Homo sapiens: one gene and its partners. The protein of the gene in region 4 purifies or fractionates together with the protein of the main gene of each other region. This does not show direct contact. Each region holds a gene or a part of one and is shown on either strand. Other genes may lie near its edges. The genes, in order: OMA1, ANKMY2, PLAA and ADCY8.

Region 1 (8,184 bases), on a different chromosome or scaffold from region 4:
ATCAGGGAGGTCTTATTCTCTCATATTCACTCTGGCTTTGTGGTCTCTCACTTATCTTCTGTCTACACTTAATAGTCCATTGTCTTTTCTGTGGATCCACTTTTTTTTTTTTAAAAAAGCTTTTTGTTTGTAGTTCTTGCTTTCATATTGCTTTGTTTAGCCATAGCACCCGCTGTAGACCCAACTTACACATGCCCTTATATTCCTGTGCGGAATACTGTTTTATGTAAAATCTTTTCAGTATCAAATACCTACTCCTAGCTCTGTAGCTAATGGTAGGGGTTGCTAGGGATGAATGTGGCCGTCTAAGCCTGTCCCCTAAAATGAGGCTGTAAGATGCACATTTGGAAAAGGACTTGTGCTTGGGCAAGTGTCTGAAGCTTATCTACTACAGTAAATCATCAGATTTGAGGTCAAGGAAAGAAAGTGGGCTTGGGTTGTTTTTGCAGTTTGACTTCTAGAAGAAGACTTTACATTTAAACCTTAAAACACTTTCCCATTTAAAACAGTTCTTTCCATTTTTTTTTGTCTTTCTGCATCTGCCTAAATGGCATGAAAAATAATTGCTGCCTTCCTGAACTCTTCAGCTACTCATGGATGTCTTTTTAAGAATGCATACAGTATGTAGTATTTAATAACTGAATTTTATTATCCCCTAATAGTCTTACTTAGGTTCAGTTTTGTCTCCCCAACTAGATTATAACCTCCATGAGAGCAGGACTATATTCTGTGCTGCATAACTCTCATGGCCCCTAGCCAATGAAAACCTTACTAGCTACTCCAGTATGAATTGTGAAATGACTTCTAGGCTTAAATTATTTAACAATTTTTCAGCTTGGTTCAAAAAAGTAAAAACAAAGTATCTTGTTAATAATGTCAAACTATTATATATCAGCCTGGACTTTACTAATTTAAAATTGGTTGTATTTCAAAAAGGGTTAACTCAAAGTTAATGTTTTACTTAGCATGCCCTTTATTAACATTATACATTAACAGTGCAAGGGCAGGATGTATGAATTACATAAAAAATAAATTTGAGTAATTTTCAAATGGTTTGATATATAGATAATACTATTAAAACTGGTAGTCCTGGAGCATCTTTCTAGATAATATCGTATTAGCTTAGGTTGAAGTTTACATATTTTTTTCCCCAACTTTTATATGAAGATTTTGAAACATGCAGAAAAATTTAAGGAACACATATGTAACTATCACTGAGATACAATGATTGCTGATATTTTGTTTATTGACTTTATGTCCTTTGTGTGTGTACCTTTGCTGTACAATTTGAAAGTGAGTTTTATTTATCATGAACAGATCCTTCAGCAAGTATCTCAGGAATAAAATAGTCAGATAACCACAATATTATCACCTAAGAAAATAATAATTACCTAAAACAACTTGAAATTCAATTCATATTTAGATTCCCTCAATCTGGGTTTTTTTGTTTTTTGTTTTTGGTTTTTTTTTTTTTTTTTTTTTTTTTTTGACAGGTTCTCATTCTGTTGCCCACGCCGGAGTGTAGTGGCACAATTTTGGCTCACTGCAGTCTCTTGCCTCCCAGGTTCAAGTGATTCTCCTGCCTCAGCCTCCCAAGTAGCTGGGTTTACAGGCAAGCACCACTCTTTGTAATCCCTTCCCCTGCTGCTTTTTTCCTACAACTCCTCAAGCAGTCACTCATCTCTCTGTCACTATGGATTAGTTTGCATTTTTTGCAGTTTATATTATAGAGATGTAATCAGAGTATGTACTTTCTTGTGTTTTTCCTGTTTTTTTTTTTTTTTTTTTTTTTTTTTTTTTTTTTTTTTTGAGACAGAGTCTCACTCTGTTGCCCAGGCTGGAATGCAGTGGCGTCATCTCGGCTCACTGCAACCTCCGCCTCCCGGGTTCAAGCGATTCTCCTGCCTCAGCCTCCTGAGTAGCTGGGATTACAGGCAAGTGCCACCACACCTGCCTAATTTTTGTATTTTTAGTAGAGACGGGGTTTCACGCCTCGAATGCCTGACCTCAAATGATCCACCTGCCTCGGCCTCCCAAAGTGCTGGGATTACAGGCGTGAGCCACCATGCCCAGCTTTTTTTGTGTTTTTCAATGAATTTATACAGTTCACCTAAGATGTCAAGTTTAAGATTTTATCTTTCATTGATTTTAAGAAGTTATGTGCCTTGTAGTTTTTTTCCTTTGTGTTTCTTTTGTGTAGGATTTGTTAAACTTTTTGAATTTGTGGTTTTATAATTTTCATCAAGTTTGGAAAACTTTTGGCCATTATTTCAAGTGTTTTTTTTTTCTGTCTACACCTCCTCCCCGCTTTTTGGGGACTTCAGTTAGATGAATATTAGGCCACTTGAAGTTATTGCATACCTCATTGATGCCCTGTGCCTTTTTTTATTATTGTATTTTTTCTCTGTATTTCATTTTAGATGGTTTCTATTGATACGTCTTCAAAGTCACAAATCTTTATTTCTACAATGTTAATCTGCTGTTAGTCTCATCTAGTATGTTTTTCATCTTAGTTCTTACAGTTTTCTTGTCTAAAAGTTTAGGTCTTTTAAAGAAATATATTACATATCTCTACATAACATGCTCATATTTTCCTTTAGCTTCTTAAACATGTGCAGTATAGTTACAATAACTAATATCCTTATCTACTAATGCTGTTATTTGTTTATTTAGGAGTTAGTTTCCACTGATTGATATTTCTTCTAATTGTGGATCACATATCTTGCTGCTTGCATGCTTGGTGATTTTTAATTATAAATTGCACCTTGTTAAGTGTTAAATAGTTTTGTGTCCTAATACCTGTTTAGATTTTTTTTTTTTCCTGGGATGCAGTTGTTGCTTGGAAGCATTTAATCTTTTTGGGGGTTGCTTTTAATATTTGTTAGGTGGGGCCAGAGCAGCTTTCGGTCTCAGACTAATCTTTCTCTAATGTTGAGGCAAAACCCTTCTGAGTACTCTACCCACGAATGATAAGGTTTTCCACTTTGAATGGTGGGGAGGGGATAGGCAGTATACCATGCCCTGTGTGAGCCCTGTATATTATTCCCTGCAATCTTTTCAGGTGGCCCTTTCCCAGCTCCAGGGAATTTTCTTACACATATGCCCAGACAGGACTCAGCTGAATATGGGAGGGGGATTCTCTGCAGAACTCTAGAGTTATTTCTCTGTGCAGCTCTTGTCTTCTCTTGTCCTCTGTCCTGTGAGCTCTAGCAACCTTGGTTTACTTGACCTCCCAGCTTTATCTCTTCGATTTAGGGGAACCACTGGGCTCCACCTAGGTTTACCCTGTCTGCATTGTGGCCTGGAAGCACTCTCCAGGCAATAAGCTAGGACAGTTGTAGGGCTCTGTTTCCCATCTGTTAGGGATCACTGTTCTTCATTGCGTAATGTCCAGTGCATTTTATAAGTTAGATTTTACTATTCTGTATCACATGCTTCCTTCCAGTTATTGCAAACTGATAAAGTTTTACTGTTGTTTTTATCTAATCCACTTTATTGCTCAAATCATTTGCCATTAAAATACAAATGGCTCTTCCCTAACTAAAAATTAAAAATGAAATGAAAAAAATTCAAGCTTCTAAAGTAAACGTTGCATAGTAAATATCGTGGTATATATACTCTGGTTTATCTTGCTGAAAGGCGTTGCTCTAGGGGTGATGAGTTGAAACCCAAGGTAATTTAGCCTGAGATGTGTTAGAAGAACAACTGACACGCCTATTTAATAAGTGTTATAGTCCCAGTTTGGTAAGTAAATATTTTCCACAGATATTTATAGTTTTTTTTTTGTTTCAGGTAGTCAAGTGAAAAAATGAGCTTCATCTGTGGATTGCAGTCTGCTGCTAGAAACCATGTTTTCTTCCGATTTAATTCACTGTCTAACTGGAGAAAATGTAACACATTAGCATCCACCTCACGGGGCTGTCATCAAGTACAAGTTAACCATATAGTAAATAAGTATCAGGGACTGGGAGTAAATCAGTGTGACAGGTGGAGTTTTCTGCCTGGAAACTTTCATTTTTATAGTACTTTTAACAACAAAAGAACAGGAGGCCTCTCAAGTACCAAAAGTAAGGAAATTTGGAGGATTACCAGCAAATGTACTGTATGGAATGATGCTTTTTCAAGACAGCTGCTAATAAAAGAAGTTACAGCAGTCCCTAGTCTGTCAGTATTGCATCCTCTAAGCCCTGCTTCCATAAGAGCTATTAGGAATTTCCATACTTCTCCACGGTTTCAAGCTGCTCCGGTTCCTCTCTTGTTGATGATTCTTAAACCAGTACAGAAGTTATTTGCAATCATTGTAGGCAGGTAAAATGCTTTTTTAGAATAAAAACTTTTATATTAACTTTTTGCATTAATATTTTGTGCTAACGTATTAACTTTTAGAAATTAATTTTTTTATTTATAAAACTGTACTTTTAAAGAAACCTTGCCAGATCCCCTGTCTCCCCCCATTTAGCTCAAAGTGAAGTTTCTAAACAGTAGGTCCTGCCCAATTTTGTTCTGTATGATTTAATAATCTTGAAACAATTTCCTGCATACTAATTTATGGTATAGAAATATCTCTTTAAAAAGTTATTCTTACATTTTGTATAGGCATTAAAAAAATCTTATATTTATGACTACAAAATCTTAGGATATATGGATCAGAAGTGCTGGTTATCACTTATGTATAAGAAGAGTACTTACAAACATTTCTTTTTAATTTGTGGAATTTAAGGCAGCAAATCATAAAATTGAGGAACTTTGCTTATATAAGGGTGGGCTCACTCCTAGTTAACTCTTAAGTCATTAATGCTTCTTTTCTTTCTATTCTGTTCCCAACAAATCTTTGTTTTTTTCCTTGGTGATCCTTTATAATAATATTTTCACAGCTTGTAGTGCTTTAACCCTTTTTCTCTTGTTTGTTTTATGAAGATGGAAGAAAGCTAATCACTGTTTCTTCATAAAGCTTTCTTGTGTTTGATGACTGTGAAGTCCCTTCTAGCCTTCTTACTACCACATGAACCAAACCAGTTTGCTTTTGATCAAAAACCAAGAACTTCTATTTGTAACTTATTGTGTTTTTCATGATTTGGTGTTGGCACCCAAAAGCGATACAGCTGTATTGACTATTGGTTGAAGTAATACGCTCATCCCAGGTTCTTCGGATGCTCTTTCTGATTTCTGCTATGTCCTCATCCTTTTAAATTATTTATTTGTAACTTTCTTGTTTTTGTTACTATTGTTGATCACCTAAAATTTTTCATTTAGAATATGTCTTTCATACATTTTAAATAAAGGATAATGTCATGTAAAGTTTTAAATAGGAAATAAGTATACTCGATAGTTTGATTTATGTCCCTTTAAATGGACACACTTTGTGTAAAGGCATTGGGGTGTGTCACTTCACAAAGAGAACTTTAAGAATTTGTAAAATAAATTTTTGTCAAGAGAATGATGTATATATGGTAAATTTTTGTTGTGATTTTACAGATCAACTCATAAGGAAAATTTTTGTCCCAGTATTGAAAACATTGCTTGTTGTCAAAATGTTTCTGAACACTGCTAAGTGGCAGAGAGTATTGTTGCCTGGTAGAAATTGGACCTTCTCAGATGTTATCTATAAAATCTCCCACTTTCTTATGAATACCTAGGATCTTGTTATCTCTCCTTTTTCACGTTGTAAAGAGGATAGTGGAGTTTCTGCTACTGAGCACTATTTATTTCCAAAATGAATGCTGAGGCAGTTTCCCTTGTACCTTGTGGAATCACTGGCAAATTGTGTTGGAGGTCTGAGGAGCAGTGGGAAAAGTAGTGGTTCCAGGTATAGATTTATTGTACTGTAACCTCTTACATAATTATTTAGGCATTTATCCCTATTAAGTGGCTAAGTGGTCAGACTCTGGAATGTCATTGCCTTCATTGCTTGGTTTTCCTTTTATTACCTCAGTGGCCATGGACAAGTTACCTAACAATTTTATCTTCTGTAACAGGGTTATTATGAAGATTAAATGAGATGGTATATATATATATACAGAGAGAGAGAGAGAGAGAGAGAATTTTGCATGTACTAGATAGTAATAAATATTAACCAGTGGTAGTTATAGTAAACTAGCATCTCATTTAGTGTTTATCCTTAAAATAGCTGAAGAAGAAAATTTCGATGAGTATTAGAATTTTTTAACTGTAACTTTACATCATTGATTATTTTTTCATCATTTAGCTAAGAATTTTATTAATTGGAAAAGCGATGTATTCAGCGAAATACATCATACAAATTCAGGTATTTGAGGACGTAAAATTCTAGTGTATGCATTTGAGCTTTAGTGATATGTGCTGGAATGATTTTCAGAACTTTGAATTTTTCTTTTTGCTTTAGGGGCATAAGGAAATGGTGGCAGGCACTTCCTCCTAACAAGAAGGAAGTAGTTAAAGAAAATATAAGGAAGAATAAATGGAAGCTATTCCTTGGTTTGAGTAGTTTTGGATTGCTCTTTGTGGTGTTTTATTTTACTCACCTGGAAGTAAGTCCAATCACAGGAAGGAGCAAGCTACTATTATTGGGGAAAGAACAGTTCAGACTTTTATCGGAACTGGAATATGAAGCAGTAAGTAGTAAGAGTTGTTTTTAATTAGACTGCTTAATATAACACTCAAAGTAGGAAAGTATCTTAAATGTGAAAGATATGTTGTTTTTTAATTTTAGTCTTTGATATGAAATTAGCATTTTTTTTTCCCGAAGGCCTCAGACCTTTCACACTTAGTATTCCTACTGCCTACATTGCTTTTCCTAGCATTCACCCAGCTAACTCCTGCTCAGCACATTTCACCTTAAATGTCACTTTTCTCAGGAAAACCTTCCTTGATTATCCAGACTGGGTTAGGCAGGGTGACTGGATCAGGCCCTAGGAGGTATCCTTCATACCGACTGAATTATGAACCAGCTCATTTGTAGTTGCGCCCATTGCTTGGCTTTACTGGGGTTAGGTCTCCTAGGCTTTTTTTCTCTGCATACTGTACTTTTCCTTCAAAGCACTCATGAGAGTAACATAATTATTTGCATAATTATTTTTTTGATTGTCTTTCTTGTTAGACTAAGCTTCATGGGGGCAGGGATCTTACCTGTTTTGTTTATGGTTTTAAATACTAACACAGTATGTAAGAGTAGAGCTTAGTATATATTTATTGAATAAATAGATTTATAGTCAGAATTCTTATACCTTGAAAATCAAGTAATATAAGATTTTTTTCCCAAACATCAGTTTTAGCAATTTATTATATTTTTTGAATCCAAATTTAAGTTATAATTTAGAAGTCTTACCTCTTTGGAAAGTATAGTAACTCAGGTAGTTAAACATTTTGTACCCTAGTGAGTTTCTTAGGGACAGAGGTCATTTTCTCTCCAGTTCATAGCACATACACATGTTATGTGCCCTGTGGCTCAATTAATATTTTTCGAATTCATGTCCAGTAGCCTCACTTGACAGCTTTGGCATGGCTGAATCTTTTTTTTTTTTTTTTTTTTGAGACAGAGACTTGCTCTGTCACCCAGGCTGTACTGCAGTGGTGCCATCTTGGCTCACTGCAACCTCCACCTTACAGGTTCAAATTATTCTCCTGCCTCAGCCTCCCGAGTAGCTGGGACTACAGGCGTGCGCCACCACGCCTGGCCAATTTTTGTATTTTTAGTAGAGATGGGGTTTCATCCGTGTTGGCCAGGATGGTCTTGATCTCCTGACCTCGTGATCTGCCCACCTCCTAAAGTGCTGGGATTACAGGCATGAGCCACCATGCCCAGCCGCTTGTTGATTCTTAAGTGAAAAAAAGCATACACTTTATGAAAGTTAAAGTAATATTTCAGAACATTTTTAATTTTCTCAGTACACTTGAAAGAGCTCTCATGAATATAACTTCAGAAAAAGTATCTTCTGTGGTGGCTAGTCTTAATCAGCATCTTTTAGAGACAGTGATAATGCTCATTAGTTCTGAGAATTCAGTAATTTCCTTTCAATCTGTGAGTAAAACACCTTAAAATTAATGAAATGTCTATTTTGGTAGTTTAACTTTCTTATTAGGTATAGGGTGTTTTTCTGTTCAATGCATTGTGAATTTAATTTTCTTTTGTATTTTACTTAGATGAAATCTTAAGTTCTCCAGGCTCTCCTTTTCTTTTCTTTTTGAGATGGGATCTCCCTCTGTCAC
Region 2 (8,184 bases), on a different chromosome or scaffold from region 4:
GTCAACTAATGTAAACCTTAAGGTCACTCCTCTGTAAATTTGGAAAGAAGCTATAATTGGGCCAAAGTTGTCAGGTTTTTCCAGTCTTCTATAAGGCATAATGACAGAAGCATACTTGCAGGAGAGAATGTTGCTATTATCATTAGTACAAGCCAGCCACACATTTTGCCAAGAAATTTCTGGTTTTACTGGGAAGAGAAGAATGAAATTGAATGTGCTGAGGGAGAAAGGCTAAGATAAGCCTCTCCTATAAAAGAACATAAAAGAATAGGTAAGTCTCCCAATCAGGTTATTTCCTCTCTTTAAATTTAGACTTGTAGTGCAAGACTGTGCTAAACTCTGCTAGCCTTCTAGAGTTAAAGGTGAAATGCAAAATAAAGATTAGCATGCTTTTTTCTCTCTGACCCACTTCTTAAGCAAGTCACCTGAGTTCCCCTCACCAACAGAGAAAAAACAGAAACATCTCCTAGATAGAGAAGTAGCTCTGTTGGGAAAATGTCAAGTGAATGATCTACACGTCCCTGGAGTATGATAGCAGCTATTTTTTTTATAAATAATGCATTTTTCTGACCCTGTATTCCATCTGAAAGCAGTTAGTATCACTGGCTGAATCGCTATGCAAGGGCAAAGCTCTTGTGTGTGTGAGCATGCGAGCCAGTTCTACATGAAACCTTATTCGTATCTGTGTCTTCTCATCAGAGACTTTCTCAAAAATCTTTATAGAAGAATAAAACCAGAACAAAAACCCCGCACCCCAGTTTCTCTTGAGGAAGATGCTTCATCCAAATCCCATTCTCTACTGAGAACCAAAGTTATTTTCTTTTTCTATCTGCCCAAGAGATGTTTTTGCAAGAAAGGGAGAATACTATAGTGATTGTAAGCATGTCAAAACCTGCTACATGGGAAGAGTAGAATGGGGATTAAGATCATAAACATTTGGCTCTCATTAGAGAACAGGCTGATAATTCTCTAAGGTGTTTGCCAAATAGCCAACAATCTAAGTTAACATATTCTGTAAGGGAACAATATATTTTAAAGATGATGCATGTATAATGGAAAACAAACTGTTCTCTCCTGCTTAACTCTCACTCAATAGTCTCAATCCTTCACTTCTGACACCAGATATATGGGGTTTCCCCCATAAACACCAAGCAATTCTCCATTGGACACCAATGGGGTATCCTATAATTTAACTCATTTCTAACATTGTTTATCTAAAGTTAGTCAGATCTTACAGGTCAAGGGCTCAGTCCACAAGACCGTCCCCACTTCAGATGCCAATCATAAGCCCCTGTACTTCTGACTGGCTATAAATCAGGGTTCCCATGATCCCCTCCTCAGGTTCCATAATTTGCTAGGACAGCTCACAGAACTCAGGGAAACACTACTTACATTTACCCATCAATTACAAATAATATTACAAAGGACAAAGATGAACAGCCAGATGGAAGAGGGGCAAAGAGCAAGGTATGTGGCACTTGGCACAGAGATTCCATGCTCTTTCCAGGCACTCATTCTTCCAAGAACTTCCACGAGTTCAGCAATCTGGAAGCTCTCTGCAACCTGTAGTTCAGTAATATTTATGCAAGCTTGATTACATAGGTGTGACCTATTATTAAGTCAGTCTTCAGCTCCTCTCCCTTTCCTGAAGATGCGGGGAGGGGTGGAGTTGAAAAATTCAACCTTCTAATCATGGCTTGGACTTTCTCATGACCAGCCCCCATCCTGAAGCTATCCAACAGTCGCCTCATTAGAACAAAAGACATTTCTAACGCCCAGGAAATTCCAAGGGATTAGAAACTCTGTGTCAGGTACCAGGGTCAAAGACCAAATATTAGAACAATAGATGCACCTAGCACCCCATTGTTCAGGAGATTATAAGGGTTTTAGGAGCTCTGTGTTAGGAGCCAGTGGCAGAGACCAAATAGATATTTCTTATTATATCCTACATGTACACGTACCCACAATCACACTAAGGTTAGCCTTTTGAAATGCAGGGGCTGGAATGAGAAAAATAATCTGAAACAGATTGGGCTTCTAGAGGGTAAAAATAGATTTGGAACATGGATGAGCAAAACACTCCAAGAGGAAAAACTGTGATGATTTCCAATTCGGTGTTCACAATGTAATGACATTAGTCGGAAATTATAGAAGGTCCAGAATAGCATGGAAATGTGAAACACATGGCTCACACAGAAGGATTTTTACTTTATGTCATTCCTACTGTCCATAGTAGACTTAAATAATATTTTACAAGTAAGTGTAAAAGATTAATTGCTTTATTCTGGGAAATAAATATGTTAAATCTGATTTAACAAACTGCTGGGGGTGGAAGATAGAGTACTATAAGAAGGGATGTGCAAGGAGCCAACATTTACCTTCATTGGAGATAAGAAACAACAGACCTAAACTAATTAAAGTAATAATTAGTGATTTATTTCCCTTTAGAGAATTCCTCCAACTGCTCAAACCAAAGAAGAAAATACAGCATAACCTGCCTCATTAGGGTGGAATTGATCACTTTATCTGGATGAACAAGCATTTTAGGAGAGAAAAGATTATGTACATAATATTTTCCCAGCATGGACAACATAGTGAGACCCCATCTCTACAAAAAATTTTCTAAAAAATTAGCAAGGTGTGGTGGCATGGACCTGTAGTCCCAGCTACTCAGGAGGCTGAGGTGGGAGGATTGCTTGAGCCCAGGAAGTTGAGGCTGCAGTGAGCTATGATCATGCCACTGTAATCCAGCCTAGGCAATAAAGTGAGACCCTGTCTCAAAAGAGAATGATATTCTTAGTGTTACTGCTCTCTCTTCTACTACATTATAGCTTTTTCAGGAATACTATAAAGTGGAACAAGACCTGCAAAACTTGGCCAGGCATGGTGGCTCACACCTGTAATCACAGCACTTTGGGAGGCCAAGGCGGATGGATCACCTGAGGTCAGGAGTTTGAGACCAGCCTGGCCAACATGGTGAAACCCCATCTCTACTAAAAAAAAAAATACAAAAATTAGCCAGGTGTAGTGGTGCGTGCTCGTAGTCCTAGCTACTCAGGAGGTTGAGACAGGAGAATTGCTTGAACCCAGGAGGAGGAGGTTGCAGTGAGTCAAGATCGCGCCACTGCACTCCAGCTTGGGCGACAAGAGCGAGACTCTGTCTCAAAAAAATAAGTAAATAAATAAATAAAAGTAAATAAAAAGACCTGTAAAACTCTCAGTTTCCTTATCTATGAAATAAGGATAACAATATCCATCCCACAGTTATCTGAGGAGTGTCCTAATGTGGAGCACATATAAGCCTTTATTAGATCTTCTTTTTATTTTGTATTCAGAGCAGCACAATATAATTCATTGTAACATTTCTAATATCTAGATCGGGAACACGGGTCTCTACCAAAGACAAGAAGATGCAGCCAAAACAAACAGAACAGGAGAAACAAACATTCTGTTTTCAGCAATTCATCACACAACCATGAGATTCAAACACGTATAGATTTCAATCGTTATTCATTATTATTGTTTTAATTTTTTATAGATACAGGGCCTTCCTCCATCGCCCAAGCTGGAGTGCAGTGGCATGATCATGGCTCACTGCAGCCTTGAATTCCTGGGTTCAAGCAATCCTCCTGCCTCAGACTCTTGAGGTGCTAGGACTACAGGTGCACGCCACCGCACCCAGCTAATTTTTACATTTTTTGTAACAACGGGGTCTCACTATATTGAGACCCAGGCTGGTGGCAAACTCCTGGGTCCAAGTGATCCTCTTGGATCCTCCCAAAGTGCAGAGGGGTCACTCTACAGGCATGAGCCACTATGTCCAGCTGGATTGCAATCATTATTTATTGGAAGCCACGAAAACGGATATTTTAAGGAATATATAATCAAGTTAAGGATTTAGAAATCTATTTGGCTTTGTTAGTTGTTATAGTGTTTACGTATAAGTAAAATCATGTAAAAATGTTTAAAGTGCCTTAATTTTAAAACAAGAACATATGGATATAGATTTTGATATAATCATAGATATAAAGCTATAAATATATTTTAAAAGTGAAACCCCATCTCTACTAAAAAGACAAAAATTAGCCGGGCGCGGTGGTGCACGCCTGTAATCCCAGCTACTCAGTAGGCTGAGGCAGGAGAATTGCTTGAACTTGGGAGGCAGAGGTTGCAGTGAGCCGAGAGCGCACCATTGCATTCCAGCCTGGGTGACAGGGTGAGACCCTGTCTCACACACAGACACACACACACACACACATAGTGGAGACTTCTAATTATAACATGCATTTTGAAATCGTGAATTTGTGCGATGTTTCTAAAAGGTCTCCTACTCATATCTATTTTTAGACTTTGTAAAAAAATGATCTTAAATTAGTATTACAGAGCACTGTATAAAATTGGGAGTATCTAAAAGAGCTGTTGCTGTGAAAATGAAGACAATGAAGCCCATATAGGTTGCATAACCTGTCCAGCCATCCAACTAATGGTAACCATATATTTTAATTTTTTCTTTGAACTCTGTACTATAATTGGTTATAAGCAGACTTGAATGTTTCTCAACCATAAAGACACCAGAAGTATTATTAACGACACAGGACCTTAGAACAGGATCTTATTTCAATAGTCCCAAATTGGAAACAACAATTGGGCATCAATGGGAATGGATGCACAAATAGTAGTATATCCTTCCACTGGAAATAAAAGAAGAAAATAAGCTACATACTATTGGTACACATAATAAATATGAACCCCAAAATCATAATGTTGAATGAAAGAAGCCAGCCCCCCCTCAAAAAAAGGATACTTATTGTATGATTCTACTAATATAAAATTCTAGAATAGAGAAATCTAATCAACAGAGGCAGAGATCTGTTAGTGGTTGCCTGCAGATGGGGGTGAAGTTAGTGACAGATCACAAAGAGGCATAAGGACTTTTTAGGGGGTGATGAAGATGTTCATTATGTTGATCTTACTGATGGTTTCACAGATGTATGTTTAAATCAAAACTGATTAAAAAGTGTGTACTACCTGTAATATGTGCAATTTATTGTATCTCAATAGTTGGTAAGAAAAAGCCTTATTATCCAAACTTGTTTCATAGCTCCTTTACACAGATATGAAAAAAAAAAAGGAAGTATAATACTTTCTTGTTAGCAACAGTAAGCCCAGGAATTTCAGGTACTAAATAAGAGAAGTAATGTGAAAATTATCTAGCTCATAGCCTTAAAAAAGGTTTAATTTATTTCATAATAGTGCTTGCTCTGAGATTAATGAAAAAGGTATCAAAGCTTAGAAGAATGGGTAACTCTACAAGTCATATAAGCCAGTTAAACACAGTTCAGTGATTTCAATTTCCTCTTACATACTGTTAAATGAATGCTGTCATTAACTATGATTTAAATGGGTATGTTGGAAACAGATTTTCATTTTCATCTGGAACTTCTTGGCATTCTAATAAATAAAAAGCCCCACTTAGAGTCTGTCTTTCTGGAGAGCAGTGGCTGGCAGATGGGAATCACTTAAATATTTGCCGAGTTTATTTCAGATTGACCAAGATGCCAGGCTAGACTTTGCTGAAAAGTTGTTAGTTCAAAGTACTAGAACTTATTGTCTCATCTAGAGTTTTTCAAAGTTGAAAAACGTATGAAAGAAAAAAAAAAAAACTCACTTCACCCACTTTAAAAAAAATGCCTCTTTTTGGCACAAATATAAACTTTGCTTATGGCCTTTCTTCAACTATAAAATAAAAATTTACTTTAAATTTAATGCACACAGAACTACAAAATCAGTAACATTTAAAACTGAGTTAACTTGACAGATGTTGTTTTGCTAGAACTAAATGACCTCTCAAAGTGAATATTGTATGGACTGCTATGGTACTGTTTCATGTTTTGTTTAGTTTGTTTTTAGGTACAGCCTGTTTATTACCTATGGGCCCTGTGATACCTCTGCTCTGCCACTTTCTGCCACTTACCTGTTTGACACTAAGTTTCCTAACTTCCCAGTTCCTCAGTTGCCTTGCCTATAAAGTGAAGATTACTATATTTATCACAAACACAAGCAGTATTTCGAATGCTTTAACTATACTAACTACTTTCATCCCCATAACAACGTTGTGAGGTGGGTATTATTATTATTCCTATTTTTCACACAGAGGACTTGAGGCTCAGGAAAAGTCACTTGCCCAAAGGCCACATCACCAGTAAATGAGTTAGAATTTCAAACCAGACCTGCATGGTTAACCACTATCCCATGCTGTCTCTCATACTGTCATAGCTTAAAATTAATTCCTAGCTCATCCAAATTAAATGCATTAATATATGTAAAGTACTTAAAATTATGTGTGGCTTGCAATAACAGTCAATAAACGTTGGCTATGGTTGTTTTTCTCATATCTCCCATTACTTTTCTTTATGAGTGCAAGTGATGTCCCACAGACCTTCATTTGACAAGAATGCATCACATACTAGGTCCACATCAGTTCTTTTCTCATTGGCATGGTCCAATGAAAGCGATGAAAGCATCAGTGCACTCATGCAACTTGATGCACCGTGTGAGCCCAGAAATATCACAGCACTAACCAGAATAAATGCACATTAATTCAGGTTTATATAATCTTCAAAATAAATACTGATGGACACCTGAGAATGTATCCAAGGAATCCCTTCTCCCCTCTCAAAGACTCAATTTATAAAACTGCTCACTATTTTTCACTTTTAAGAGATCACATGATGGGCCAGGCCCAGTGGCTCATGCCTGTAATCCCAGCACTTAGGGAGGCCGAGGCAGGAGGATCACTTGAGCCCAGGAGTTCGAGAGCAGCCTGGGCAACATAGGGAGACCCCCACCACCCCATCTCTACAAAAAAAAAAAAAAAATCTTTCTAAAGTAGCCGGGCATGGTGGCTCGCACCTGTAGTCCCAGCCACTAGGGAGGTGGAGGCTGCAGAGAGCTGCAACTCCAGCCTGGGTGAAGAGTGAGATCCTGTCTCAAACAAACGAGAGAGAGAGAGAAAGAGACAGCGAGAGCGAGAGAGAGAGAGGACATGTACTAGCTCTGTCCTGCCTAAAAGAATTTTTGTCCCTGGTGGATTGTGAATTGATCCTTTGTCTCCTTTTTGCCCAGCACAGTACCTGGCACACAGCTAGAACTTGCATGTTTGCTTAATTGAATCCCAGAGCCATCAAAGGCAGGGAGAAATTACCTAGAGACAGGAAGAACTGAAAGACTGAAATGCCAAATAGGTCAGCAAGAACCATGCAGTACAACAATCTAAACTCTAACCCAAATCCCCAAATTCCAGGCAAAGAACACATCATTGATAGATATAGCTGTGACTGACTTAGAATAGTTGAGATCAGATCGGGTGGGCTCAGCTCATCAGCACCTGTTGAGTTCAAACCGGAATTTTTTCTCCTTCGCATGTGGAGTTTCCTTGTCGCTATGAAGAATAAATCTGCCTTATTCTCTAGGATTCCACATTTCAGCCTGGCTACTAAGTAAATAAAACTGGAAACTGGGAAGCCTTATGCTGCAATGACTGGCATCTCTGCCATTCGAGGACAAACATGGCTATATTATTATTGAGTTTAAAATCACCACATTAATTGCCCGGAGTCGCACGCATCACCATCCCTGCACCGTGAGGGTGCAGAAGAAGCATGCAGTCACGCTGATGTCACCTGCCAGGTAACGGGACTCGGCAGGGAACTCCTCTGGGACGTCCACTCGGGGACTCCGGGGAAATATGGCTTCTGGCTCGTCCTCGGGGCTCCCCGCTGGGACTCAGCACTGCGGAAGTGGGGCACGCCTTGGGGGAGTGGACAAGAAAGCGCGAAGGAGCGCGATTAGAAGGTCTCATCTGTGCAACGTGGGCCGAGGGGTGGGTGTGGAGGCCTCGCCAATTTCCTTGTCTCTCTAGGGTTCCTGAGGCTGTCGGGGCTTCTGGAAGCCAGGGAGGCCCTGGATACGGAAGTCTCAATGCAGCAAATTACAGACCTAGTTCTGTACCCTTATGAAGAACCCCTCTCCCTAAGGGCGCCCTCCACTCCCAAGCGGGGGCGGGGATCGGCAAAGGATCCAGATCATTCGGCCTGCGGAAGTCTAAAGGGTCATTTAGACACCCGCCTAAGAACCTGAAACTACCAGGACTGACCGCGGTCAAAATCCCTCGGGAGCAGTGAA
Region 3 (8,184 bases), on a different chromosome or scaffold from region 4:
TTTACAGTTCATTTGAATTCTGACCCAAATAAGGTCCACATCTGTTTTGTTTGTTTGTTTGTTTTGTTTGTTTGTTTTGGAGATGGAGTCTCACTCTTTTGCCCAGCCTGGAGTGCAGTGGTGCAATCTTCAGCTCACTGTAACCTCTGCCTCCTGGATTCAAGTGATTCTCCTGCCTCTGCCTCCCAAGTAGCTGGGATTACAGGTGCCCACCACCACGCCCAGCTAAGTTTTTTGTAGTTTTAGTAGAGATGGGGTTTCACCATGTTGTCCAGGCTGGTCTCAAACTCCTGACCTCTGGTGATCCATGTTGTCCAGGCTGGTCTATAACTCCTAAACTCTGGTGATCTGCCTGCCTCGGCCTTCCAAAGTGGTGGGATTACAGGCATGAGCCACCGTGCCCAGCCCTACATCTTTCAATCTGTCAGTTTCTTTCTTTTTTTCTTGTTGCTTAAAACCAGATTATTTTAGCTGTAGAATTTCCCACAATCTCAGTTTTACTGGTTAAAGCCTTGTTTCCTTTAATGTGTTCTTCAGTCACCTATATTTCTTGTAAGCTGTTAAATAGATCTAGTAGCTTTATCAGGTTCAGATTCAAGTTTTTGGCAACAGTATAGGTGGTATTCTGTATTTTCTATTGTATCACATCAGGAAGCACACAATATCTTTTTGTGATATTAAGATTGATCAGTGGGTTCAAGTGTTGTATCTTTCTTTCATTATAAAGTTCCCATCAGCCTTTCACATAATGGTAATTTTTAGCAGCTACTGATAATCATTGCCTAGATTCAATATTTTATTAAGGTTTACAAAATGATTGTACTGTAATTCTAATATTATTTCTGCATTTGATCGCCAAGACTTTTCTGTATAGATCTTTCCACATCAACTGGTTACCATGTGGGACTTCTATACAGAAAAGACAGAATAAATGCTTTCCTTGACCCTTCTCCCAATTTATTTACTGGTTTGCAGAAGGAGTTGTTTCCTGAATTTTTTTTTTTTTTTTCAGTTCTCAAATTGTTCCATATCTGGCCATTGGAAACCTCTTTAAATTGGCTCCTGTCACCTTTTTATAAGACCTTCAGTAGTCTTCCTTGCTTTATTACAGAATGTTCTAGGTTCAGTTTGTACACTTCTTGCTCTAGACCTCAAACCAGCACTTTTGCCAAGAAGTCCTGTTTTTTTTTTTCTTTTACTGGGAAATGGTATTTTATCCAATTATATCATACTGATTTGTGGAAGAATGTAAAGAGCACCCAAGTTACAACTATTAAGATCTCAGACTGGGCATGGTGGTGCATGCCTGTAATCCCAGCACTTTGGGAGGCCGAGGTGGGTGGATCACTTGAAGTCAGGAGTTCACGACCAGCCTGACTGACATGGTGAAACCCTGTCTCTACTAAATACAAAAAAATTAGCCGGGCATGGTGGCGCATGCATGTAATCCAAGCTACGTGGGAGGTTGAGGCAGGAGAATCACTTGTGCCTCGGAAGCGGAGGTTGCAGTGAGCCAAGATTGCACCATTGCACTCCAGCCTGGGCAACAAGAGCAAAACTCCCATCTCAAAAAAAAAAAAAAAAATCTCAGTGATGTAACATATGAGTATTTCTCATTAACCCTACATGTTCAACATGGATTAATAAAGGGACTCTGTTCATCAGATTTTCTCAGGGACCCAGGCTAATGGGGCTTTCTCTCCACACATGCTTCAGTAGTTGTTGGAGCAGTCAAAGGGCAACATGGTTAATAAGGCACTGGTTGGCTGGGCGAAGTGGCTCATGCCTGTAATCCCAGCACTTGGGAGGCCAAGGCGGGCGGATCATAAGGTCAGGAGATCGAGACCATCCTAGCTAACACGGTGAAACCCCATCTCTACTAAAATACAAAAAAATTAGCTGGGCGTGGTGGCGGGCGCCTGTGGTCCCAGCCACTCGGGAGGCTGAGGCAGGAGAATGGCGTGAACCCGGGAGGCAGAGCTTGCGGTGAGCCGAGATCACACAGCTGCACTCCAGCCTGGGCGACAGAGCGAGACTCTGTCTCAAAAAAAAAAAAAAAATAATAATAATAATAAGGCACTGGCTTTTAAAAGCATGTGCCTTCCTTGAATGTCACAGTAGTAGAGAATTAAAAAAATCAATTTTAAAAAAACACCAAAAACATGTGTGTGACTGAAAGTGTCAGCTACCGTTTTGTCTGGTGACTAATGCAAGTATCATGGCTATGCCTAACTTCAAATGGAGGAGGAAAGTACCATTCTCCCATGTGTCCAAAAAGGGAGAGTTACCACAGCATGCTTTCTGGTCATCAACGATTCAGCTTCATCAAACAATCCAAAAGTCTCCTCTGAGTGATGCTAAGTATTCTAAACATCAGAGAGGTGATGCTTATAAGTAAGCTGTCAACCATACCCAATATACAATTATGGAAAAGGAATAGGATAATCAGAGCAAACACTCATTCAGAAGAGGAAGCAGTGCAAGACAACAGTTTTTGATCTAGAGCCATTCTGAAATCCAAATAAGTAGCTGTCTCAAGGATCCTCAGCTCAGGGTAGAGAGACTTTTGTGATTGCTTCCTTCTGGTCTAGGAAAAAGGTTTCCCAATCCAAGGTTCTTTATGGCTGTGCTTCGACCGCCAATGATACTCTTCTTTCCTAAGATAATTTTTCTTTTTTTTTCTTTTATCTTTTGAGAGAGGGTCTCACTTTCTTGGTCATACCAGAATGCAGTGCTGCTCTCACAGCTCACTGCAGCCTTGGCCTCCCATGCTCAAGCAATTCTCTTACTGGGACGACAGGCGCGTGACACCATGTCTGACTAATTTAAAATTTTTGTTTTAGAGCTGGAGTCTCACTATATTGCCCCAGGCTGGTCTCAAACTCCTGAGCTCAGTTCAAAATGCTAGGATTACAGGCATGAGCCACTCCACCTGGCTAATTTTTCTTTTCTTTCTTTTTTTTTAAAGACAGAATCTTGCTGTGTCACCCAGGCGTGAAGTGCAGTGGTATATGATCACAGCTCACTGCAACCTCTGTGCCCTGGGCTCAAGCAATCCTCCCACCTCAGCCTTCCAAGTAGCTGGGAACACAGGCGCATACCGCCACACCCAGCTATTTTTTTGTATTTTTAGTAGAGATGAGGTCTCTCCACATTGCCCAGGCCGGTCTCTAACTCCTGAGCTCAAGCAATCCGCCTGCCTTGGCCTCCCAAAGTGCAGGGATTACAGGTGTGAGCCACTGTGCCTGGCATAATTTTTCATATTTGTAATTTTTAGCCTGCATAATTTCACATCAAGAAAGTAAGACATTTAATTAACCACTTCATTACTTTTGGACATTGAGCTTGGCTGCAGGTTTTATGGTCACTGTCATGAAAGCAGCCTTAAATATTTATATAAACAGTGTTTCAAAATCATTTACATTATCTCCCTATTATGATTTGTTAAAGCTGGAAGGATTGTGTAGCTCACTTAAGTTCCGCTCCCTCGTTTCACAGACAAGGAATCTGATTTTGAGTAATATTTCTGCAGTTACGTGGCTTGTAAGTGGCACAGCTAGGCCTTGCGCCCAGGCAGTCTGGCACCAGAGTCTGCTCTTGACCACTGTACTCTTATGCGTCTCTGCTGAATTGAGCCTTAGTTAGCTAAGATACTGCCACTTCAAAGAGTGTTTTTAAAATTGGAATGCTTTAGTAACTTTCAATGTTGAGCATTTTTCTGTATGAAAATGTGTTATCCAATGATGTTTTTTCCTTAGTTTGTAGTCTATCATCTGGAAAATTTGGGACATTACTTAGTGGTTCATGGGACACCACTGCTAAAGTCTGGCTGAATGACAAGTGCATGATGACCTTGCAGGTACAGTAGTTCTGTGTAAATATTCTAAAGAATAATTAAGTTGAATGATTCTGTGGCAACTTAAATTGATACTCATTTTACTCACAGGGTCATACAGCTGCAGTGTGGGCGGTAAAGATCTTACCTGAACAGGGCTTAATGTTGACTGGATCAGCAGACAAGACTGTTAAACTGTGGAAGGCTGGAAGATGTGAGAGGACTTTTTCAGGTAAGATCAGGGTAGACAAGTTTTATAATATCATTGCTTTTTATTTGCTCAGATTTTTTTTCTCAGAAGTTTACAAGCATGAAAATATTTGAAAAACATTAGTATATTTAAGCTATTAATTTGAGTTAATGTAATTTTTCTGATGAGTTAATATCTAATACATTTAAAAAGATAATGAAACCTCTCATAAAACAGCCAAATGTAGACTGATAAATAGCTGTCTGATAAGCTATATATAATATGCATATGTGCTTCTGCATATATGTATGTAATTTTTGGTATATAGTTATATTTTTGGTTGTCATTTTAATACTTTTAGCCTGAAACTTCTAAACATAAGCCTTACTGATGGTCAGTCAGCAGTGTTATCTTCATATATGGAAGAAATCATTATTAGTGTCTTTATATTGAAGCACATTGTTTATAACGAATTTCAAGCTTTGTTTATGTTGTGGTTTATGGTGAGTATTCTTTTTAAACCCCAGCTATTAAATAATGCCAATACTGATGCATCTGCTATCTAATAGTAATATCATTGATTTATTTGTAGGGTACTTAAGTATTTACTGTTAATTTTAATTGGTGTTGTTTTTCCTTTTTGAATTTTTTCCTTAAAAGTTGGTAACTACCCTAGATAATATGCAAGAAGTCCCTTTGTACAGATAAAAGTATCTTTTGGCTGGGTGCAGTGACTCACAACTGTAATCCCAGCCTTTCGGGAGGCTGAGGTGGGTGGATCACTTGGGGCCATGAGTTCGAGATCAGCCTGGCCAACATGGTGAAACCCTGTCTCTATTAGAAATACAAAAAAATTCGCCAGGAGTGGTGATGCACACCTGTAATCCCAGCTATTCGGGAGGCTGAGGCACAAGAATCTCTTGAACCCTGGAGGCACAGGTTGCAGTGAGCAGAGGTAGTGCCAGTGCACTCCAGCTTGGGCCACAAAGTGAGACTCCATCTCAAAAAAAAAAAGAAAAACAAAAAAAGTATCTTTTGATGGAAAGTGGATGATGACTAAACATCCTTCTGTTTCTGCTTCAGTATATAGTCTATATATATGTATCAAGTCATTATTAATCTGTGATAGCTACTCTTAAGTCAACAGATACTGAACATAGGAAATCTGACTTCACAAGCTTCAGAGAATGTTTTGTTCTTAAATTTATGGGCTACTCTTTGTTATATATTTCTTTTATATTTGAATATTATATATTTTATAAATTACTCTTGTTGGGGAAGAAAAATTAAAAATGAATTTTCAGGTGAAAACAAATTATTGGGGTCAAAATACTATTTCTGGAGGTTTTTGGAGAAGGTAGGATGAATGTAAAATAACTTCTGAAGACTGGTGATAAAAAAATATTGCTAAACCTTAAATACAAATTTTGGTTATCAGGCTTTCAACAAAAAAAAAGATTTCTCTAACTTGAAAATTAATTTTTACTACTCACTGATATGTTTTATAATGTTAGTAAAATGTATAGAGCCATCAGCCAAATTATCAGTTTTATTGATTTGCATTATTGTTTTTTAATGCAGGGCATGAAGACTGTGTAAGAGGTTTGGCAATTTTGAGTGAAACAGAATTTCTTTCCTGTGCAAATGATGCTAGTATTAGAAGGTGGCAAATCACTGGCGAGTGTCTTGAAGTATATTATGGACATACAAATTATATTTATAGCATATCCGTTTTTCCAAATTGTAGAGGTAAGATTATTTTATGCTATTTATTTAATGTTTTGTATTGAGCATTATTCCATCCCATTTGTGAGATGGAGGGAGGAGAGCTGATTACTTAATTTACTATCTATGACTTGAATAATTTAGTAAATTTATTTCATTAAGTATCTTTCTCCTGTTTACAAAGAAGAAAATTGTATGGCCATCTTTATATTAATTCAGATTTATGTTGTGCTGTAAAAAGTTCTTGGGTATCTGAAGAAACACTTTGTAAGATGTGACATGAATAAAAAATGTGATTTTGAAGTTGTATATGTTGTAAGTGACAAACATATGAAATTTAAAACTGTAATTTTGAAAGTCTCTGGGTTTCAAAAAGTCAGTGTATCTAGAAAGATGGTATGTATAAATGTACTTAATTTTATTCAAACTAATACTTCCTATATTCATTAATTTTAGACTTTGTGACAACAGCAGAGGACAGATCTCTGAGAATCTGGAAACATGGGGAATGTGCTCAAACTATCCGACTTCCAGCTCAGTCTATATGGTGCTGCTGTGTGCTCGACAATGGTGACATTGTGGTTGGTGCGAGGTATTTATATTCTAGTCAATCATTAAATGTTATATGTCTAGGCCTTCAGTAGGAACTAGAGTGTACAGAGATAAGCCATAAGGAATTTCACGTGACTTGAGGAGACTATATGGACACTTCAATTACTAAACAAAACAGTAGTAGATATTATAGCTTTCATACTAAGGGATGCATGATATACCAGTATTGTACTGCAATTGTGCAGTCAATGATGCATGATATACCAGTATTGTACTGCAATTGTGCAGTCAAGATATTGACTACAAAAGAAGTTAGAGAAGGTAGAGATTGGTGTGGGAAAACTTTCTGTAGAAGAAGAAATTTGAACTGGATTTTGAAAGATTATGAGTGAGAAAAGATACGCAAATTTTTGTCAAAGCTAAGAGTATAAGTTTCCTTCATGAGAATGAATGCAGCATGCATAGGAAGTGAAGGAAAATGGTGGAGTACTAATGCTGAGATAATAGGTACAATGGGGCTTAACTGTGGAGAACCTTTAGTGCTTTCATGCCAGGCATTTTTTAGATTCATTGCCTGGGGTTGAAGGGTTGTAGTTCTTGAGCAAGAAATAGGATTGAAGCAGAACTTATGAATTACTAAATATGTAGATTGGATTTAACTGCTGGTGACAATGGACAGGAAAGTAAATTAGAAAGCAAGTACAGAAGGAGTGTGAAGTTATAAGACATTGGCCCCACAATGCTAATGGGTAGGAAATAAGTAAATGAGATAATCCAGAAGGAAAACAATCAGAAAAAGTATGAAAGAAAAGGATAAAGCTTCAAACTGTTAGTGATTGGAAATCTTCATTAATAAAAATGGAGAAGTGGGAGAATTGGTTGGGTACAGAAGGTGATGACCGTGGCCTTAGACTTCCTGAGGTCTGCAGTGGTGGTGAGCCACACTCATGCCAGTGGATCATGGTCATTTGAACTGGAGCTTAGTATAAGAACTGAGGCTAAGATAAAGATTTCGCAAAGCTTCCAAAAGCAAAGCATAGAACACCATTCTCTGAGGGAAGAAATACAGGGGAGGAACAGAAGACTAAGAACTAAGTTTTATGATATACCATTAGTAGAGAAAAAGAAGTTAGTAGGTTAAACAGAACAAAGGAATTCAAATGTTGAAATTTCTGGGAGACAGAAAAGGAGAGATTTTGGAGGGAGATTGTCATCAGTGTCAAAAGTGTTTGAGGAGTCAAAGAATGGAAAGTTTGAAAAGCATTTGGATTTGGTTTGAAAGATGTTATTAGTGACTTTTGGCATCAATCACATTTTGAATAGAAAATGATAGAAAAAAAGGCAAATAAGAGGAAATAAAGGGTTGGAGGAGATGGACGAAGGATCATAGACTACTCTATAATGCTACTCTAGCATTGAAAGCAATAAGAAGGCCAGCTGCTGTGGCTCACACTTGTAATCCCAGCACTTTGGTAGGTCCAGGTGGGAGGATCGCTTGAGCTCAGGAGTTCGAGACTATCCTGGGTGAGCTACCGAGACCCTGTCTCCATACAAAAAAAATATTTAATTAGCTGGGCATGGTGGCATGCATTTGTAGTCCCAGCTGCTCAGGAGACTGAGGTGGGAGGATTGCTTGGGCCCGGGAATTTGAGGTTGCAGTGAGCTGTGATTGCCGCCCCTGCACTCCAGCCTAGGTGACAGAGTTGGACCCTGTCTCAAAGAAAAAGAGAAGAAAAAGAAGGTGACAGCTATAAGGGATAGAGGGTCTAATAAAGTGGGTGTTTTATTTTTTGGCTGGGACAGAGGCTGATTTATAGGCTTAGTTTTTTTCCCTCCTAAGCATATGAAGAAAAACCAATAGAACGAGTGATGTACATGTTTG
Region 4 (8,184 bases):
TTCTCAAAGAGTAGCCTCAGTTCTCTTGGCATATCACTTGTCATAAAAATCCAGTTAAAATGATTAATATCCTACACACAATACATTTTTATAGCTACATAAAAACCTTTGGTATCTTCTTGAAAATCTGAAGTCTAAGACGGATCTTTTTTCTGCTAAGTCTACTCTTGTCCCGACAGTCCATTCTTCACAGGCAGCCAAAGTGATCCCTTAAAAATCTAATTGAGATCACATCACTGCCCCGCTTTTACCCTTTCTATCACTTCTGGAATAAAATACATCAACAAAGCTTGCAGGACGGAGGTCCCAGCCCCTTCAGCTCCATCTGTTACTCCTTTTCCCTGCTCACTATGCTCTAGCCACTTGGGACTTTTTGCTGTTCTAACACACTAAACTCCTTTCTACCTCAGGGTGTCTGCACTGCTTTTCCTCTGTTTAGAATGCTCTTTTCCTGCTTATTTGCATGAGAGTCCTTTTAGCACTCATATTAAATCTTTAGAGAGACTTTCTCTGACAATGCCTTCTGTATGCTATATACTCCCTGGTCATATCTCTCTATTTCCTTCATTACACTTATATGTTTTGATTAATTGTCTGCATTCCTCACTCCTTTGAAATGTAAGCTCCTGGGCTGGGTGCAGTGGCTCAAGCCTGTAATCCCAGAACTTTGGGAGTCTGAGGCGAGTGCATCATTTGAGGTCAGGAGTTCGTGACCAGCCTGGCCAACATGGTGAAATCCCATCTCTACTAAAAATACAAAAATTAGCCAAGGGTGCTGGCACGCGCCGGTAATCTCAGCTACTTAAGAGGCTGAGTTGGAAGAATCGCTGGAACCCGGGAGGCGGAGGTTGCAGTGAGCCGAGATCGTGCCATTGCACTCCAGCCTGGGCGACAGAGTGAAATTCCATCTCAATAAAAAAAAAAAAGGAGAAAAGAAAAGAAACATAAGCTCCTGGAGGACAGGATTCATTCATTACTGGATCCTCAGTATGTAGTACACTTGAGTATCTGTTAAATAACAGAATGAACAATAGCTCAAGCCCAGATATAGATTTTACTCAGAGCATGCAGCAGAAAAGGAAAATATAACCTTTATGATAAGGATCCTGTTCTTATCTTCCTTTCATTTGCAATGTTGTCTTTCAACTGAGAGATTCAATGTCCATGTTGATAACTCATTTAATAATCTAGCCTTGAACTTCCTGGATATTCTCCCCCATATGTGAAATTTTTCACTTTTGATCTACTTCAATCATCTCCTTCTACTTTTTAAATCTTAAGTTCCAATAGTCCACCTGTGATCATAAACTTCTTGCCTTCTAGTTTCCTTACTTTCATTTCACCTGGAAACTCAAGGCATGGGGAGTCTCACTGGGATCTGAGTCAGGGTTCAGGAAACCAAGGCATCAAATTAAGAGGCAGAACATCTGCACTTGTCAAGGGCCAGGGATATAAAAGGGCATGGGTGTTCAGGATGTCCAAGAGCAAAACTTGGATACCAGAATGGGGTCAAACCAACAATTTTAACCCAAATGGATACAGATACAGGGGCAGACAAGACACAGCATCAAAACCAAGGGAGTATGGTCAGGCAGACAGAAACTGGAAGACTCACATAAGGGGCCACAGATAATTATTAGTGATTTTCATTGCTCCTCCAAGCCATTTACAAACTACTGAAATGGGTAGAGGGAAGGGAACAGGGGTGGAACTGGAGTTCTTGGAAACCCAGAGCCACCTCTTACCAATTATGATGACCTGGCTTCTGACTCTACCATCTCACCAGATCTGCCTCTTGCCAATGATGTCCTTCAATCCAGTTCCAATAGGCAGCTATCAGTCTTCATCTTCCTGGGCCTCTTGTCTCCATTTGACTTTGCTGATGGCCCCTTCCTTCTTAAAATGCCATACTCTAGGCTTCTGTGACACCACATTCCCTAGTTCTCTTCTGACAACTTTGACTGTTTCTTCTCTGTCTCTGCCAAGGAATACGAATCTTTCACCTTCCAACTTGTGCTCCTCAAGGTCTGCTTGTGTCTTCTTGTTCCTTAATTTTACAGATTCTCAACAGTGATCTCTTTCACTGCCATGTCTTCTACTAACACCAAAATTCTCGTGACTATGAATACCAAATTCACATCCCTTGCACAGTTCTTTTATGCCTGAGTTTCAGAAATGTGTGATCACTCTCCCTGGATTTTTCCCAGACACTTCAAGCTCCACATGTCCCAAAGAGAATTCCTAGTCTTCCTCACACAATCTCCTATTCCAGTACTGCTTATTTTAGTTGGAAGTTCTATCATCGACGCAGTTCCAAGCAAAAAATCTAGAATTCAAACTTGACTGATTCCTCTCCCTCACTACCCATATCTATCATTTAATTCACTTATTCAACAAACTTTAATCAAGCCCTGTGATTTGCCAGGTATTGTTCTAATTGTGGGCTAAATTGTGGTAAGTGAAACGGATATAATTTCTATCTTCATTAAGAATATAAACCACTGGCTGACTTTGTCTCTAAAGTGATTTTTTTTCCCCATCCCTCCTCTTTTTTTTTTTTTTTTTTTTTACTAGCAGTAGTTGGCTTGTAATAGATGCTCAATTAATCCTTATTGAATGAATGAATACATGAGGATGTAACTATCTGAACATCTGCTATCTACATAGCACAGAATATGACACAGCAATTTGATGCCATTAAACATATTTCTAAGCACATATTATGAATGAATAGAAGCCAAAACATCTGGCCAATTTAGCTGGAATACCCCCAGTGAAGCATTAGCATGCTTTATCTGTGTTATGCAAACACTCAGATGGTCGGGGCTTCCGTGGAATTGACTGGGTGTTTTGGCAAAGCATAGGCTCAGCCAGACCAGTCTTGATCTCTTCCAGGGACAAATTATGTCTCTGAATTGCACATATGGCTCACTGACTTCTAGAGTTAGGCATAAGTACAAACATTGAATACTTGTGACGGTTTTAATTGGCTCAGTAATTTCCAAAATATTATTGGTGGCACGCGGTTATTCATGAATATCAGCACACATTCACTTGCTCTTCAGTCTGAAGGCATCAAAATGAATTCAGATTTTTCGTGCTAAAGATGGCACAGATGGGTTACATCCAGGCAAAACTTGGGCATTAAAAAAATACACGGTATGGTTAAACAACACTAACAATCTCTAGCTAATAATGACATCTCTTATAATAGGTATTTGGTGACATCAGGAAATATCTTTAGGAAATCAGCAAATAAATATTTCAAGCATTCCTATACAGTTTAACCACATCAATCAACTATAGAATAAAACCAAGAACCTCCACCTCCCTCTTCTTGGCTCTCAGTTATTAGTAGCAAGTTCATGTACAATACAGATTAGAACATTAAGGAATTATCTTAATTCCTACAATCAGCATAACTGGAGAGAGATTTTTCAAAAATAAAGACAAAACAAAAACTAAAACTGAGAGAGAGAACTTTATGCTGAGGTATTCAGGATGAGGCATGCATTTCTTTCTCTTTAAATAATCAGCATACAGACCCAAGCTAACAATAGGCAAAAGCAGCAGAGAGGGCACTGTCAGCTGGTCATGCACCCACTCCAGGAAGTATATAACACCATTATTTTATAAAACAGCAAACTGTACCATGCACACCAACTCAGAGATGGAAAGAACCTAGGCATTGCAATCAGTTATGACTTTTGTGTGCATAATAATTTTTGGGGGAAATTAAACACTCACAAAAGAGCTGTCGAAGACCTAAGGGTCAACTCTTGCAAGGCATGCAGCCTAGGTTCAACCTGCAGCTTTTCCCAGTGGAATCTGGCCCATGCATTTTCTCATAGTTTTTCCCCCACAGATCCAGAAAGAAACCAAAGACAGCCTAGTCTCAGAGTGCCCCATCAAACTTTCAAATGCAGAAAAAAGAGGGGAGACTTTCAGCATTTTAACCTTTCCATTTAAAATTTTTTTAGGCAGACAGATTTTTCTTATCTATAAGTTAATGAGAAATGTTGAGGTCTATGGAATTTAAAAATTAACCCTTATATGTCTTCATAAAACTCCAGACACTATTGGCTGGGTACTTCATGGTACTCTCAGCTTCTGCTTGGTCGAGGATCTTATCAGAAACTGTCAGATAACTGTCAGATAAGTGTTATATATTGGCTATTTTTATTTCTTTCTCTAAAAATGTATAGTACAGTCACATCATTGAACTTATGTGAATTCAACTAAATGTGCTGTGTCTAAGAGGTTAAAGGGAAAATCCATATTAGAGCAGGTAATTTTGCCATGGCTCCAAGCAAGCATTCTGGGAGAACAGAATCTCTGTGTCCACCTTGGTTCTCGACCTGGCTCAGCCTCAGTTCTCTAAGTGCCTCTTGGAGTCTGAGCATCTCATTGGGTTTACTGTGATTTCAATATTTGAATAAATAATTTAAAAAGAATTTTGGTTATTGGTGATCTACTCCTTATGTACTGACTTAGTAGCCCTGTCCTTCATAGAAGATGCAAATCCATGCTATATAAAAATAGAATCATGTGGGTGGCTTTGAAATTGCATGCTCCTCCTGAACTCCCTAACTCTAGGCATCACTTGGTGCTCCTTTCCTATTTCCAAATCTGCAGTGCCCCCCTGATTTTGAATCTCAGAGGGTGACACAGAACTGATGATGGCCAGCTACCGAAAAAGGGGCATTCCCATGTACTTGATCCTCCCCTTTAGTTTAATAACAGAGGGTTTATTTTTTCCAACATGAGTGGTTTTTTTTTTTTTTTGGTAAAATTACAATTCAGCTTCACATAATATTTATTTTTAGCTAGGTTACAAAAAAAAAAAAAGAGAGAGAGAGAGGGTGTTAGGAACCCTCTGGCATTTCTGGCATTTCCTGAAATTGCATACGAGGTTAATTCTGTCCTGAGGAGACAGAGAGATAGTTTGATCATTTGCAATTATGGTGTTCATTGGAGAAAAGGTTAAAGATGAATCAGTTTTCTCTGAGGTGTCTGGATTGGAGATGCACACGAGCATGCATTCATGGCCAAGCAGAAGGAGGAAGAGAGGACTTACATTCTGTTTCCCCACGATATTATCAAAGGGCAGTTCAGGGCTCCAGGATCCTTCAGTGAATGTGGCCCCACTGTTTCTCCGGTCTGAGGAGCTCACTGACTCCTTGACGATATCTTCAGGCAAGGACAGCAGACTGTCCTCAGGCTGCTTAATTAAGTAAGTTTCGATATTATGCTTCCTCAGGAATTCATTCCTCTCTTTACCATGGCCCTCTTCCACGTTATAGTCACCGTTGAGACAGTCCAGCGTGGCTTTGGAAATGTGAATCCTCCTGTGTGTAGAAGGCATAGGTCATTACACACTCCTGATGTTGCCTGCAAAGGCTATATTTTTTTGACCTGTACAAAACCAACACCAGGGTTACACAAGGGTATTATTAGGACATGTCCTCAGGGACAATACTTGTCTTCCTAAAAAGTAGAAAGAATAAAAGAAAATAGAAGCATAAATTCATGAGCACAGTATCACGGACATCGTCCCAAGAGACACTGCTGCCTCTGATAAAATACAGCCCTTCTGAGCCACACCTAAGCACATCTTTTGGCTTTTCTTATGATTGTCAGCCTGATCCCAGCAAACTTTACAAAACAGTGATTTTTTTTTTCAGTCGTGTTGATTATATTGGAAAAACAAGTGCTGCAAATGTTTCTGAACCCCAGTGGCAATCATTATCCAAATCACCATGCAAAAACAGTTCTTTCTTCGTCTTGGAACCTGTCCTATCATTTCAATCTTCATGTATTTGTAACTTGTTTCTCCAACTTGTCTATATTCTTCTCAAGGGTGATTCTGATAAGTCCATAGGGCTGCACTGAGGGTCCTTTGGGAAAACCACTGTAGGGTACAATTTCCCCTATAACATGTATATTATAAGGAGCAAAGAACAAAGCTGTGGACATGTGCAGGCTGGCAGCTGGCTGGGCTCACTCACAAGTGAAGTGACTCATGGCTGCACAATTGTCAGCCACTGTGGCTCATGACTCAGGCTTCTTTTTTAGCAAAATAACATATGACATCAGGGCCTTGAGGATCAAACTTGATTCATGGAAATTTCACATGGTAAATTCTTCTGGGGAAGAGTTTTTCTGTCCTCGTAACTGTCTAACTCAATCATACTACTTATTGCGTTATAGTGTGGTCTGGGTAGACTAGCAAGGTAAGGTGGTTACAAACATGGACTTCATTGCTAGATCTCCTAGATTCAAACCGTAGCTCTGCCACTTGCCAGCTGAGAGATCTTGGGCAAATTACTTAGCCTTTCTATCAGTCCATTTTCTTACCCATAATATGGGAAACATAATAACACCTATCTCTGACTATTATTGTGATTATTCTACGAGTTGATTTGTGTAAGGTAGTCAAAACAGTGCATGGTACAACATATACACTATAAAAGCAAATATGTAAGTTATTAAGAGTATTCTAAAAAATGCCATTGTCATCATATTACTGTTGTGTATTCCATGCCTTCTCAAGGCTTGCAGAAGACTATTGTCAGGCCTTCTGAATAAGGCCTCCAAGCTTTCATTCTCTGGCTCTGTCACTTCAAAGCTCATTTTCTGACACTCCTCTAATATAGCTCTCCTATGCTCTCTCCAGCTATTCAAGTAATTGGCAATTCTCCAGATTCAACGTACTATTTGGTGCTTACTAACAATTTCCTACTGTCCAATTCTGCTCAAAAGTCATCTTCCTAAGTTTACTTTAGTGTTCATTTGAATGAAAGAATGCTTAATATTTTGATTGGCTTTTGGAATGCTAAGAACAATATATCCAAGTAAACAGAAAAGTTTTTAAAAAAAATTTAGAGTGGCTTTTAAAAATGCACTGTAGTGGCTCATGCTGAGGAAGCCGAGACTGGTGAATTGCTGGAGCTCAGGAGTTTGAGACCAGCCTGGGCAACATGACAAAACACCATCTCTACAAAAAAATACAAAAGTTAGCTGGGCGTGGTGGTGCATGCCTGTAGTCCCAGCTACTTGAGAGGCTGAGGTGGGAAGATCGCTTGAGCCCAGACAGTTGAAGCTATAGTGAGCCGAGATCATGCCACTGCACTTCATTCTGGAGGACAAAGTGAGACCCTGTCTTAGAAAAAATAAATAAATTCATTAATTAAATAAAATGCAGTTTACTTTTAGTATTAGCTCTGCTACTCCCTCTCATCCTTCTAACCCATTCTGCTAAATCCCTCCTTACAGAAAGAATAGTTCATTGCAAAGAACATGTGAAAAACCAGAAACTACAAACAAATCATTTCTGATACTTCATGTTCTCCACATCTTCCACATAAATATCTTGATTGATTTCAAGTGCAAGATGTTAAAAATAAATGTGTGAAAGATGTTTTCACTCTCTTGAGAAATGTGCTGAATAAATACAAAATATTCCCAAGATGCATTTTGTTAATACATATGAACTCAATAATATTGACCTGGGAGAATAACAGATCGTTTGACCTTCCATGAAATGGAAGTCCCCATCCGCTTTCTCAGATGAATCTGAGTTAAGACTGGAAGCTTACCTTTTCTCCTAGACAAAATGAACCTGGTAGGAGGGTTTTCTAAAGTACCATGGTTGATTTTCTTTTAAGATAATTAAGTTACATATCAACCCCTTTTAGCATTTCTCTGGATTCTATTTTTATTATTCTGCTGTCAGTATGCAAGGGGACAAATACTTCCATGTATTAAATCAATATTATGTTTTCACTAGTGAAAGAGATCCTTGCCTTCACTGATTCTTCTGCTGAAGTGCTAATCAATATGCACTTAAATGTTTTGGTAGAAACTGGGTTTTAGATGTTTCTTTTCATCCTTGTTACTAACTTGAGCTTTGGGGTAAGACATTTGCAGATGAGATTCTGAAGATTGCATTTCTTTCTAAGGAAATGTGTCAGTTTTCAGGCATTTCTTTCTAAGGAAATGAGTCAAGTAAACTTGGCATTTTCTGATAAATTTTAATGCTAGGATATAATAAAAGTAGTCATGATACTAAATTAAGACCTAACAATTGTGTAACTCTTGTTTTGCATAAATGTTATCTAGTAGCCAAAGGTGTTACTGTGTGCCCCATGGATTATCTCATATAATTTCCGTTCTTTCAACAAC

Evidence for each region.
Region 1: the proteins of ADCY8 (region 4) and OMA1 purify together in Homo sapiens (affinity purification with mass spectrometry; one large-scale study listed by BioGRID and IntAct). This does not show direct contact.
Region 2: the proteins of ADCY8 (region 4) and ANKMY2 purify together in Homo sapiens (affinity purification with mass spectrometry; one large-scale study listed by BioGRID and IntAct). This does not show direct contact.
Region 3: the proteins of ADCY8 (region 4) and PLAA purify together in Homo sapiens (affinity purification with mass spectrometry; one large-scale study listed by BioGRID and IntAct). This does not show direct contact.

What each region holds. Positions count from the first base shown.
Region 1 is NC_000001.11:58,534,919-58,543,102, reverse strand, and holds part of OMA1 (metalloendopeptidase OMA1, mitochondrial precursor), read left to right. Parts: intron 1-3,792; 5' UTR 3,793-3,808; coding exon 3,809-4,308; intron 4,309-6,361; coding exon 6,362-6,590; intron 6,591-8,184. UniProt on the Homo sapiens protein: Metalloprotease that is part of the quality control system in the inner membrane of mitochondria. Activated in response to various mitochondrial stress, leading to the proteolytic cleavage of target proteins, such as OPA1, UQCC3 and DELE1.
Region 2 is NC_000007.14:16,637,003-16,645,186, forward strand, and holds part of ANKMY2 (ankyrin repeat and MYND domain-containing protein 2), read right to left. Parts: intron 1-8,184. UniProt on the Homo sapiens protein: May be involved in the trafficking of signaling proteins to the cilia.
Region 3 is NC_000009.12:26,923,983-26,932,166, reverse strand, and holds part of PLAA (phospholipase A-2-activating protein), read left to right. Parts: intron 1-3,758; coding exon 3,759-3,859; intron 3,860-3,946; coding exon 3,947-4,067; intron 4,068-5,606; coding exon 5,607-5,774; intron 5,775-6,206; coding exon 6,207-6,342; intron 6,343-8,184. UniProt on the Homo sapiens protein: Plays a role in protein ubiquitination, sorting and degradation through its association with VCP. Involved in ubiquitin-mediated membrane proteins trafficking to late endosomes in an ESCRT-dependent manner, and hence plays a role in synaptic vesicle recycling.
Region 4 is NC_000008.11:130,898,695-130,906,878, forward strand, and holds part of ADCY8 (adenylate cyclase type 8), read right to left. Parts: intron 5,349-8,184; coding exon 5,078-5,348; intron 1-5,077.